Regions from separate parts of the Homo sapiens genome. Here all the other regions are reported to be linked to region 2. The links are microRNA targets in miRTarBase. Many come from high-throughput screens and were not tested one by one. Region 2 holds a microRNA gene; each other region holds the end of a gene's coding sequence.

Evidence for each region. Region 2 holds the annotated microRNA hsa-miR-575 (GAGCCAGUUGGACAGGAGC, at 1,740-1,758, shown strand). A microRNA usually pairs through its seed, bases 2 to 8, with sites in the 3' UTR of a target mRNA and lowers its output. Matches are read on the target gene's strand: a 7mer-m8 pairs with bases 2 to 8, a 7mer-A1 pairs with bases 2 to 7 and ends in A, and an 8mer does both.
Region 1: miRTarBase lists CHCHD4 as a target of hsa-miR-575. Seed matches in the 3' UTR shown: 7mer-m8 at 2,146-2,152.
Region 3: miRTarBase lists PGAP1 as a target of hsa-miR-575. Seed matches in the 3' UTR shown: 7mer-A1 at 1,432-1,438, 7mer-A1 at 657-663 and 7mer-A1 at 249-255.

The regions. Positions count from the first base shown.
Region 1 is chr3:14,110,054-14,113,408 of GRCh38, forward strand. It overlaps CHCHD4 (coiled-coil-helix-coiled-coil-helix domain containing 4), which reads right to left. Exons shown (of 3, transcript NM_001098502.2): 3 at 2,024-3,141. The coding sequence ends at 2,834. Among named protein-coding and RNA genes, the nearest start is that of CHCHD4, 13 kb to the right of the region's middle.
Region 2 is chr4:82,752,110-82,755,109 of GRCh38, reverse strand. It overlaps MIR575 (microRNA 575), which reads left to right and starts at 1,680; the gene lies at 1,680-1,773. The region is part of intron 1 of SCD5 (stearoyl-CoA desaturase 5); the gene reads left to right.
Region 3 is chr2:196,838,240-196,841,594 of GRCh38, forward strand. It overlaps PGAP1 (post-GPI attachment to proteins inositol deacylase 1), which reads right to left. Exons shown (of 27, transcript NM_024989.4): 27 at 1-3,133. The coding sequence ends at 2,995. Among named protein-coding and RNA genes, the nearest start is that of C2orf66, 31 kb to the left of the region's middle.

The DNA of each region.
Region 1 (3,355 bases), not on the chromosome of region 2:
AGCCAGTCATGGTGGAGCACGCCTATAGTCTCAGCTACTTGGGAGGCTGAGGTGGGAGAATCGTTTGAGCCCAGGAGTCCAGGGCTGCAGTGAGCTATGATTGTGCCACTGCACTCCAGCCTAGGCAACAGAGCGAGACCCTGTTTCTAAAATAAATACATGTTAAAATCTGTACAGTCCTAGAACTAAGGACTAGAATGTAGTGTTCTATTAAGAAGCTTGGCTGATATGCTGCACTTGCCTATAACACAAAAATACAAAACAGGCTGAGCATTCCAGCGCTTTGGTAGGCTAAGGCAGGAGGATCGCTTGAGCCCAGGAGGTTGAGCCTGCAGTGAGCCATGATTATGCCACTGCACTCCAGCCTGGACAACACAGCGAAACTCTCTTAAAACACAACACAACAAAACAAAACAGACATAAAACATTGTGTTGGTAATTGCATTTCCAAATCAGTGTTATTTTGAGCAGCCCTTTGTTTCAATTATTGCTGTTCTTTAAAAATCATCAACTTGCATTTATCTGAATCATTAACTCTTTGATCTATTGGTGTTCTTACATTTAAAGATACACAGCAACTTAAATATGAATTATCCAAACCCCTTGTAGTAAAGCATAATCTCCACCCACTTCCAATTGCTTATACGGTGCCAATTCCTTATCACCAATTTGTTTTTCCAGTGATAAGTGGAAAAGGATGGAACCTTTTGCCTAACCCAAGTCGAGTTGGGCAGACAGTTCGAGAATCTCTGCTGTAAGTTACCATGGCTGGAAGAACCCAGCCCTGAAAATCCAGCACCATTATGTAACACTCATCCATTCCTTTCTGCTTTCTAGTAAATGTTGACTTCCTGGCTAGATTGTAGCTTCATGGGCAGTACCATGAATGAATCACTCTATGTCCCTAGGGCTTGGAACTGTAGATTCCATGAATGCATCAAATAAATGGGGTACATGACATGGTCACAAAACAGTAACACCTTGATTGTGACCAAAATTTTAACAAAAGAAATATCGTTTTTAAATGTGCAAAACTCTGTTAAAAGAAGTCGTTAGGGTCTGTCATGCCTTCCATGCTTGGCCAGCTCCAGGTTCTTAGCTCCTAATCAAGCAAGGTTTAAAAAAGCTCTGGATATAGAAAGCAGTTCTCTACCTCCATACACCTCCCAACCACAAATCCTTGCATTTTAACCATGCCTTCAAGCTTTAACATGGTGGCGCCTCATTCTCCAGTGTGGCAGGCAGCTTCCTGTTACTCGTATTCTTGTGTCCCTCTCCTTGAGTGTGGGCTGTGTCTCACTTCTAACAAACAAATAGACTATGGTAAAGTTATGGAATGTCCGTTTTGAGATTAGGTGATGAAAAGGCTCTGGCATCCATCTTGCTCTCTCGCTTGCTCTGATGGAAGCCACCTCCCATGTTGTGAGCTGACCCTTTAAGGCAAAGGCCATGTGGCAAGGAACTGAAGGAGGTGTCTGGCCAACAGCCAGTAAGGCACTGAGGCCCTCAATCCACAGCCCACAAGATTCAACCCACTGAACCCTCCCAGAAACCACTTCGAGCGATCTTGAAAGGCCTGTCCCACCTTGAGATGACTACAAGTATCATAGCCTCATGAGACACTGAGCCAGAGAACCCAGGTAAGCCATGCCCAGATTCCTCGTTTCAAGCTATTAAGTTTTAAGGCAATTTTTTACATAAATAACTTAACACATTTGAGACAAATGAGGCATTACTATGCCACAGCCTGAAAACTGTCTAGCAGTTACCTTAGGCAAGTTAATCTATTTTCAAACAGGAAGAGCCTTCCCCACCTCATAGACTAACTGTAATGTCTGTGTGAAGGCATCTGCTCACATATAAAATAAGTAAGCTTCCTTTGAACTCAACACAGAAAATTTTAACGGACTCAAATTGGTTTACCAATATCTTTCAAGAGGAATTTCAATTGAATTGTTCATAATTTATACTTTTTTATATAGAAAACATTTTTAACTAGTGAAAACAAAGGACACATTCAAAATCAGGTAGAAATCATGTTTCCTTTTAATTGAATACTTAATTCACAACGTTTCCTCTCTTGCTGCTACTCTGGTAATAATTAGGTCCCCACCTCTCAAGAACATTGCACCTGACTAGACTGAGAGCCAGTGTGAACATGGGCCCCAAACCAGGGCTTTCGGAATAACAAGGAACAGCCAAGCCAGCCTCTCCCTTCACTTAGAAAGGGATTATGAATGGAAGGGTCCAAATCTTCATCATCCAAACACAGAAAACCAGGAGCTCAACACCTACATGGAAACCAAAATGTATCAGGAATAAAGTACAGTACCCCTTCACATACTCAAGGTCAAGATGGGTTTGCAGAAATCATATCTGACCATCTGGCCTCTGCTAGTAGATATGGCCCCATCCCAGCATTTTTAAGAGATGTTTTTGTTGTATTATTTCCCCAAGGGGTATAAAATCTACCAAAAGGAATATAATGAATCAGAATAAATCAGCTCACTCACAAGAAACGTTCTTGGGTAATGGTTTTTAGTTGCTGAGCTTATTCAGCACATTATTTAAAAGTGGCAAAATTCAGGGCAATCTGAGAATTCAAAAGTGGCGGCCACAGGTTTGGGTAGGACACACATACATACAACCCCCATTTTTTTCAGTGTATATGTCAAGATGTCAAGACCTCAAGACCTCTGATCATCAAAATAAGTTATTTTGTATATTATAATGCACAGGACAACAGAAGGAAACTTTCTTGGAAGGTGATGACAAGGCCTTTTGCAAAAGGTCCACTCCAAAAGGACTGGTGCCCAGTGCCTTGTGGCCTTCATTAACTTGATCCCTCCTCTTCTTTGGTTGCAGTGGCCTCAATGGGAGCTGTTTCTTCTGCTTGTTCTGCTGGCTTCTTCTCTCTTTCCTCTTCCTCATCCTCATCCTCTTGGGGATAGAGGTCTGGGTATTTCTGCATGCATTCCTGCATGGCCCGGAACTGGTCTACACAGTCTGACCCCTTGATCTCCTCCGTGCTATAGTGGAAGCAGGAAAAGGCTGACTTAAACTGTTCTCCACAGGGACCGCTGGCCATTCCCCCAAGGCATGGGCAGTTCCAGTTAATGTTTCCATTTGGCAGTATCAATCCTAGAACAGGAAGATAGAGAGATGTTCTCTAAAGTTTCAGAAAATACAAAACTAGTCCAGTCCTCACAGGCTACTGAGGGGGTGCAGAACAGGAACTATTGTTGCCTATGGACCCACACCTCGATTTGGATTAGGTTTAAAGCCTAGCACATATCCAGCATTCCTTGGCCCACCTGGGAGAGAAGCCACCAATGACATATTTCTCCACGTGTGA
Region 2 (3,000 bases):
TTGTTAGCTGCATAGTTTGGTCTGGCTATAGACTTTCCAAGTTCTGAAGGTAAAACTGACATCAAGTTCTTCCCATCTGGTCTACTGAGTGCACCCTGCAACCTTAGCCTAGGCACTTTGGCACCTTCTGTTTTAGCGGCTGTCTCTGTCCATGGTGGGCTTGGTGTCTTGTTGCTTCTGTTCCTCTGAGTGAAGTGTTCAAAGCCTCAGACTCCTGAGGCTCAGCTCTGTGCCCTGGCCTTCGAGGCTTGTCACTTCTGCCGATATAAGAAGTGAAATATAGGTCAGCCTCACAGATCCCAGTGTTAAAAATAAAAGCTTCATCCCCAGGCTCTGCAGGTCTGTAGATTGGCATGGGTTCCCCCACTTTCCAGCAACCACTCTTCTAAATTGCTTCTTGGAGCTTAGTACTGATGCCATCCGCTATGCAAGAGGGAACCTGAAAATAGAAGAGGAGCTGAGATCGTCTCCCTTGGCAAATGCCATTCCAAAATGTGAAGATTGCCTGAATGGAAATTGTAAATAGCAGCACTGAGCAGGTTTCCTCCCTGTCGGGTTAGGAGGGTGGGCTGCTGGTGAGGGGAGGGTGGGTCCTGGGGGGAGCCTGGAAGGAGTCCCTCTCCCTCTTAGGACCACCCAGACCCCTCCTGTGGCAGCCAAGTGACCACGCACTGAGATTCCTAAGTATTTTGATGAAAGGACTTCTCCTCCCTCTCTCTGCTTTCCCATTCTTAGTCCTTGCATTTGAGCTTTCTCAGAAGATTTAGCTGCTTTTCTGTGATATGAAAACTGAGGAGGTTGAAAAGCAGGGCCTTTGAATTTATTTTTAGTATCTGCACATTTCTCTCTTCCTGCATTCTCTCACTTTCTTCTCTCCCTTCTCCTTTCTCTTCTGATTTCCCGCTTTCTCTCCCTGCACTGTCATTCTCTTTTGCCCTTCTTAACTCCTGCAAAACGGGGAGATAAGTTTTCCTCCACATAAGAAGCCAGGGCCTCTGAGAAGCTTGTCTTTGAACAGATGCCTCAGCCTTGCCCCTTTCTCAGGTCTCATTTTTCGGGCGAGTCTGTGCTTGACAAGAGACTGCGTTATCTTGTGGGAGGACCCTAAGGAGCCAGGGTACTTGACATTTAAAGCTTTTCATAAACAGTGTCTTCAGTGCTTGGCAAACCTTGAACCCTCCCAGCTGGCAGCAACGAGGCTTTCTCATCAGGACTGGCTCAGCCTCGGATGTGACATTTTCCCAGGGCCTCAAGGAAATGGAATACGCCCTGTCTGCCTTTTAATCCCTCTCAGTTGGATTTTCATAGACTTCTGTCAGGGGGGTATGTGCTGGCTGCTTTTCCTATAAACTGGAGTCAGGGGAAAAGGGGAAGATGGCTGAGGGGGGAGGCAAATATGGATGCATTTAATACACATTTGGCAGGTCAAGCAGAAATATCATTGGTTACATAGTTTTTTGATGCTATCCTCCAGGCCAAATTAAATGACTTCTTTGGGAGTAGAGAAGGGCTTAAAAACAGTGATTTGGGTGACACCCTATGAACATTCTAACCTGAAACCCTTCCCCGCAGGTGACTCAGCCCACAAAGAGCCACACTCCTGGCAGATGTGGGAAATGGACACTATCACTGTCAGAGTCCACCCGCGTGACTCTGGGGCGCACTGCTTTGTGCCTTTAAATTCAGCCCTGCCACTGGCTTATGTCATGACCTTGGGCTACTCAGGCTGTCTGCACAATGAGCCAGTTGGACAGGAGCAGTGCCACTCAACTCTGGCCATACACAGAACCCCCCACCCCCACCCCAGGGAGCTTTTAACACACATAGCCATCTAGAGAATGTGGATTAATTTGGTCTCAGGTGAGGCTTGGGTGGCTGTAAAAGCTCCCCAGGTAACTCTCACATGAAGTAGGTGAGACATGCTCCCTAGACACATGTCTCTCAAACTGGAATGTGCACAGGAATCACATAGGATCTTGCTAAAATGCAGACTCCAGTCCTGTGGTTTTCAGTGGGGCTGGGGATTCTTCTCTTCCCATGTGCTCCTGGGCAAACTGATGGTGTGGGTCCCCAGAACACACTCTGCACAGCCAAAGTCTGGATGGTCTTTAAGGTCCCTGCAGTTCCTTACTGAGTTTTCTTGGTGAGGAGAGGGCAGGGAATTAAGTAAAAGATATATTTTAATGGTAGCAAAGAGGACCTCCCTTTTATCACTGGGGTAAAGTCATGTCATTTTTGGGAAAATGTGATGCAGTATTTGGTGGGTAGGATTCAATTTGTATCCATTTTCAACACTGGAGTAAGTTTATTTAGGGGGAAAAAGGGAAACAGATGTAGCTGTGTGTGTGAAGAATGGGGAAGAGAGAGAAGCGTGAAAGAACTGAGTGGATGTGTGTGTGCTCACAGGGCGAGGATTCCATGCAAACAAATACATAGGCTTCTCCAGGTCCAGTTTTGGTGAGGGGACAGGAAAAGGGACAGATATTGTTCAGCTGGGATTTAAGGTGAAGATCATGCTCCCTGGAACAACCCAAAGGCTGGAAGATTCCATCTCCTCAGCCCCATCTCTTTCTGGTGCTAAGCAGCCATTTGTTCCAATTATCCTTGAATTATAGTGACAGCTTTTGGTTTATGCAGGCCTTCAAATCATCCTAACCTAGTAGAAGAAGTAAAATGATGCCTTTATTGACAAGAACATTTCAGCTGGCTGGTTTTAAAAGACTCTCTTCTTCCCACCTATTCCCACGTCCCTGTGCTTCCACCTCACTAAGAGCCACAGACACCATTTTGGAGTGTCAAGATCTTGCCTGATTTTGCATATATATATATATATATAATTTTTTAAAATTCAAGGTCAACCTTGAGAGATATTGCTTGTATTCTGCCTTCTGTTTTCCCTAATCCTTATAGAACTACAAATTCCCATACATGAGCAGATTTTCCTGGTTTAAAATTATATTTAACTAAAGTTAAATACTTCAGGCCTTGTGATGGTGATTC
Region 3 (3,355 bases), not on the chromosome of region 2:
TAGAAGGCATAACAGTTGCTGTAAAAGTTGAGCTCAGAAATTTCCTGAATTAGATAATCTATAACCGCCAATAAATAATTTCATTTTTGTTAACATTGCTAATAGGGCAGTGCTGTTTAACCAGCCAATAATATAGATTGTGGGCATGATGAAAACTGTGTAATTTAAAGGCAAAGAACTTTCCTTTTCTCAAGTGACAGAAACGTCCATTTTGCTAATCTTCAAAGAGCCCACCTTCGCATCTCTGGTAGCCAGCTGGGTTTAAAGTGCATCAAGACTCAATGAAGACCCTGTCAAAATGTAAGTGTATACATATGTGTCTGTATATATACACATATAATGGCTAAAGACCCAACCTACTATTGATTATAAAATGTTTAATTAGAATCATTTTTGTAGTCCTTAAAATGAAATTTTTTTTGGCATAAATAATACTTTAGGACTTGGTGATAACTACATTCCCATGAAAATATTTGAGTGAGAATTAGTGTACCTAGTCTGCTGCTTTAAAAAGTAAATGTACGGCTGGGCGTGGTGGCTCACGCCTGTAATCCCAGCACTTTGGGGAGGCAGAGGCGGGCAAATCACGAGGTCAAGAGTTTGAGACCAGCCTAGCCAACATGGTGAAACCCCGTCTCTACTAAAAATACAAAAATTAGCCAGGTGTGGTGGCGGGTGTCTGTAGTCCCAGCTACTCGGGAGGCTGAGGCAGGGGCATCACTTGCACCTGGGAGGTGGAGGTTGCAGTGAGCTGAAATCGCGCCACTGCACTCCAGCCTGGTGACAGCGTGAGACTCCATCTCAAAAACAAACAAACAAACAAACAAAAAGCAAATGTACTACTCACAAATGAGAAATTGAAGCTTGTTACATTCATGAACAGTACTAACTAAACAAAGAGGTTTTAGAATACATAAACATAATATTTATGGCTATCAATAGAAGATCCAAATTAATGAATTTTCTAAAGTTCTTTCTGTATATGGAACTAAGTCCAAATTCAGAAATAGTTTAAGGACACATGTAATCTGTAACTTGAGATACACTAAAATATCAGGTGACAGAATAAAAGACGCAATGTGTATCAAAGTTGTTTATAAGTATAGTTAAACATAGGGAGATGTGTCCCTATTTAAACATATACGTGGTATGCCATGGGACAAGTATATAATCTAATAAATTCTCTCTCTTTCCTCTCCAGCTGAAACATATAGCACTTTGTATTTTATCTCTTCTGCTACTTCTCTCAAACAAACAAGCACCTGTCTGCCATATCCCCACCACGAGTTTATCATTTCCCTTTAATGTTCTCAGTAAGTTAAAATATGAATACTGAAAAACATGCTCAAAGCTAGAAAAGACAACAATGGGATCAAACAAACTTAAAACCCTCAGAGATGAGAGCAAGACTCCCTTCAACTGAGGCCAAAATAGCCAGGACCTGAGGAAGAACTGAGAAGAGAAGTTAGGTAACTCTCTACAGGCAGTAAGCAGAAGTAACTGTCCACAGGCAGTAACAGCTGAGAGGCTGTAATGGAATCCAGATGCAATGGCAGATAAAATAAAACTGGTGCTCGAGGACATCCCTGGGTACTAACAAGGATACATATTCACAAGTGCAATGGTGGAATCACTGGAAATTTACATGAGAGGCTTTGTGGAATCACTAAAACTTTAGTTGAGAGGATTTGGGCATTTACAGTCTACACATCTAGAAGAACTCTATAAGCCGGGTATGTCTCAGCCTGAGTTTACGCTATCCTAAGGCAAAGAGTATACTCTTCTGCCTTGCCGATTACCTTCTTCCTACTCTTGTAGCTAAAAGTGACGTAAATTCTGAAATGAAATAAAATGTTACTCTTATTTGTCAAACAGTAATCCCAGAAGTCACCTAGGCAAATCAAGATTCCACTGTTAAACCTAGTGGCTAATGTCTCCAATTTATTCAGGTGTACTGTTTATACTCATGCTACTAATGGGTTAACAGTTGTCTACTGATATTCCATTAATAGTATAATATTATACATCAAATGTGATGTTACCTTGATCATGTTGTTGTTGTTGTTTTTTCCCACAGCAGAAAAAATGGTACAAACCTAGAGTTTCCAACCACTGGAATTTAGTTATTTTAACAATCCATTATGACCTCAGGCACTTTTGGCAACCATGGTGCAATGAATTGAATCCAATGGTATAAACTAAACAACTGAACTGCTCCAATACCAGGAAGCAAATAGCTACGAGCATTTTTTCTTTACATTTAACAGCAGACCTCTTTAATAGTCTCCTGATGTTCACCGAGAATATATAGTAAGATTCATATTTGAAAAATAGCAAGAAAAATTGTGTAAGTTTGAATCATGTTTCCACCCATCAATCTTGCATTGGTTACCAAGAAAACATATCTCCTTACCATTCAAAGCTCTATTTTCATAGATGTAAGAAGACAAGATCCACTTTGTTCATGGTGGCTGCCAAAAACTAACCAAAGGCTTTCTGTGGCTATTTAACCTTTGAGAAACCAAACAGCTATAAATTTCATCAGTTATTTAAAGACTTATTTCTTAATAGGTAAACTATAGCAAATTCAAAATAACCTACTTTTGTGAAAAAAAGTTTGATGAAATGAGCAGAATGCTTGCAGTGAGACTGCAAATAATGCTGCATCTACTAAATCTCTCATATCAGACTTCTCGTACAGTTGATAAAACAGACTATTTTATATGCACAGGAGTCCTCAATGATAGTGATCACCATATATCCCTTCATGAATTTTTCAAAAATGATTACTACATGGATTCCACACCACAAAACAAAACCATGCTTCAACTACTTCCCTCAAACATTACAAAACTAATTTCCTATTTTCAATATTGTAAAAATAGACTTGTCTTCTCCAAAGGATCTTGCTGTCCATACTGATGGATCTGTGTGTTCCCTCTTATCACTGGCCCTAAACACATAAATTATCTTCATCATTCCTTAAGTCCAATCTTACATAAAGTTGCATAATGCATGGAGTAAAAGAGGAATGAAGACAAAGCATGGAAGCCTATATAAATGTGCTGACCCAAAAGCAATCACACCAACAGCCAGAGGAAGTGGAAATTGTGAAGTAGTCTTCAACAATTTACTGTAAAGAGACAGAGAAATATACATTACTTATGTGAACTACATTGTGAGCCAAAATTATATCAATCTTTTATACAGTTTTGGAAAGATAAATATTCTAAGTGAATTTAAATGAATTTTTAATGATATGAATTTACCTATTCATAATTTCTTTTTTTATTTTTGAGATGGAGTCTCACTCTGTTGCCCAGGCTGGAGTGCAGTGGCGCAATCTCGGCTCACT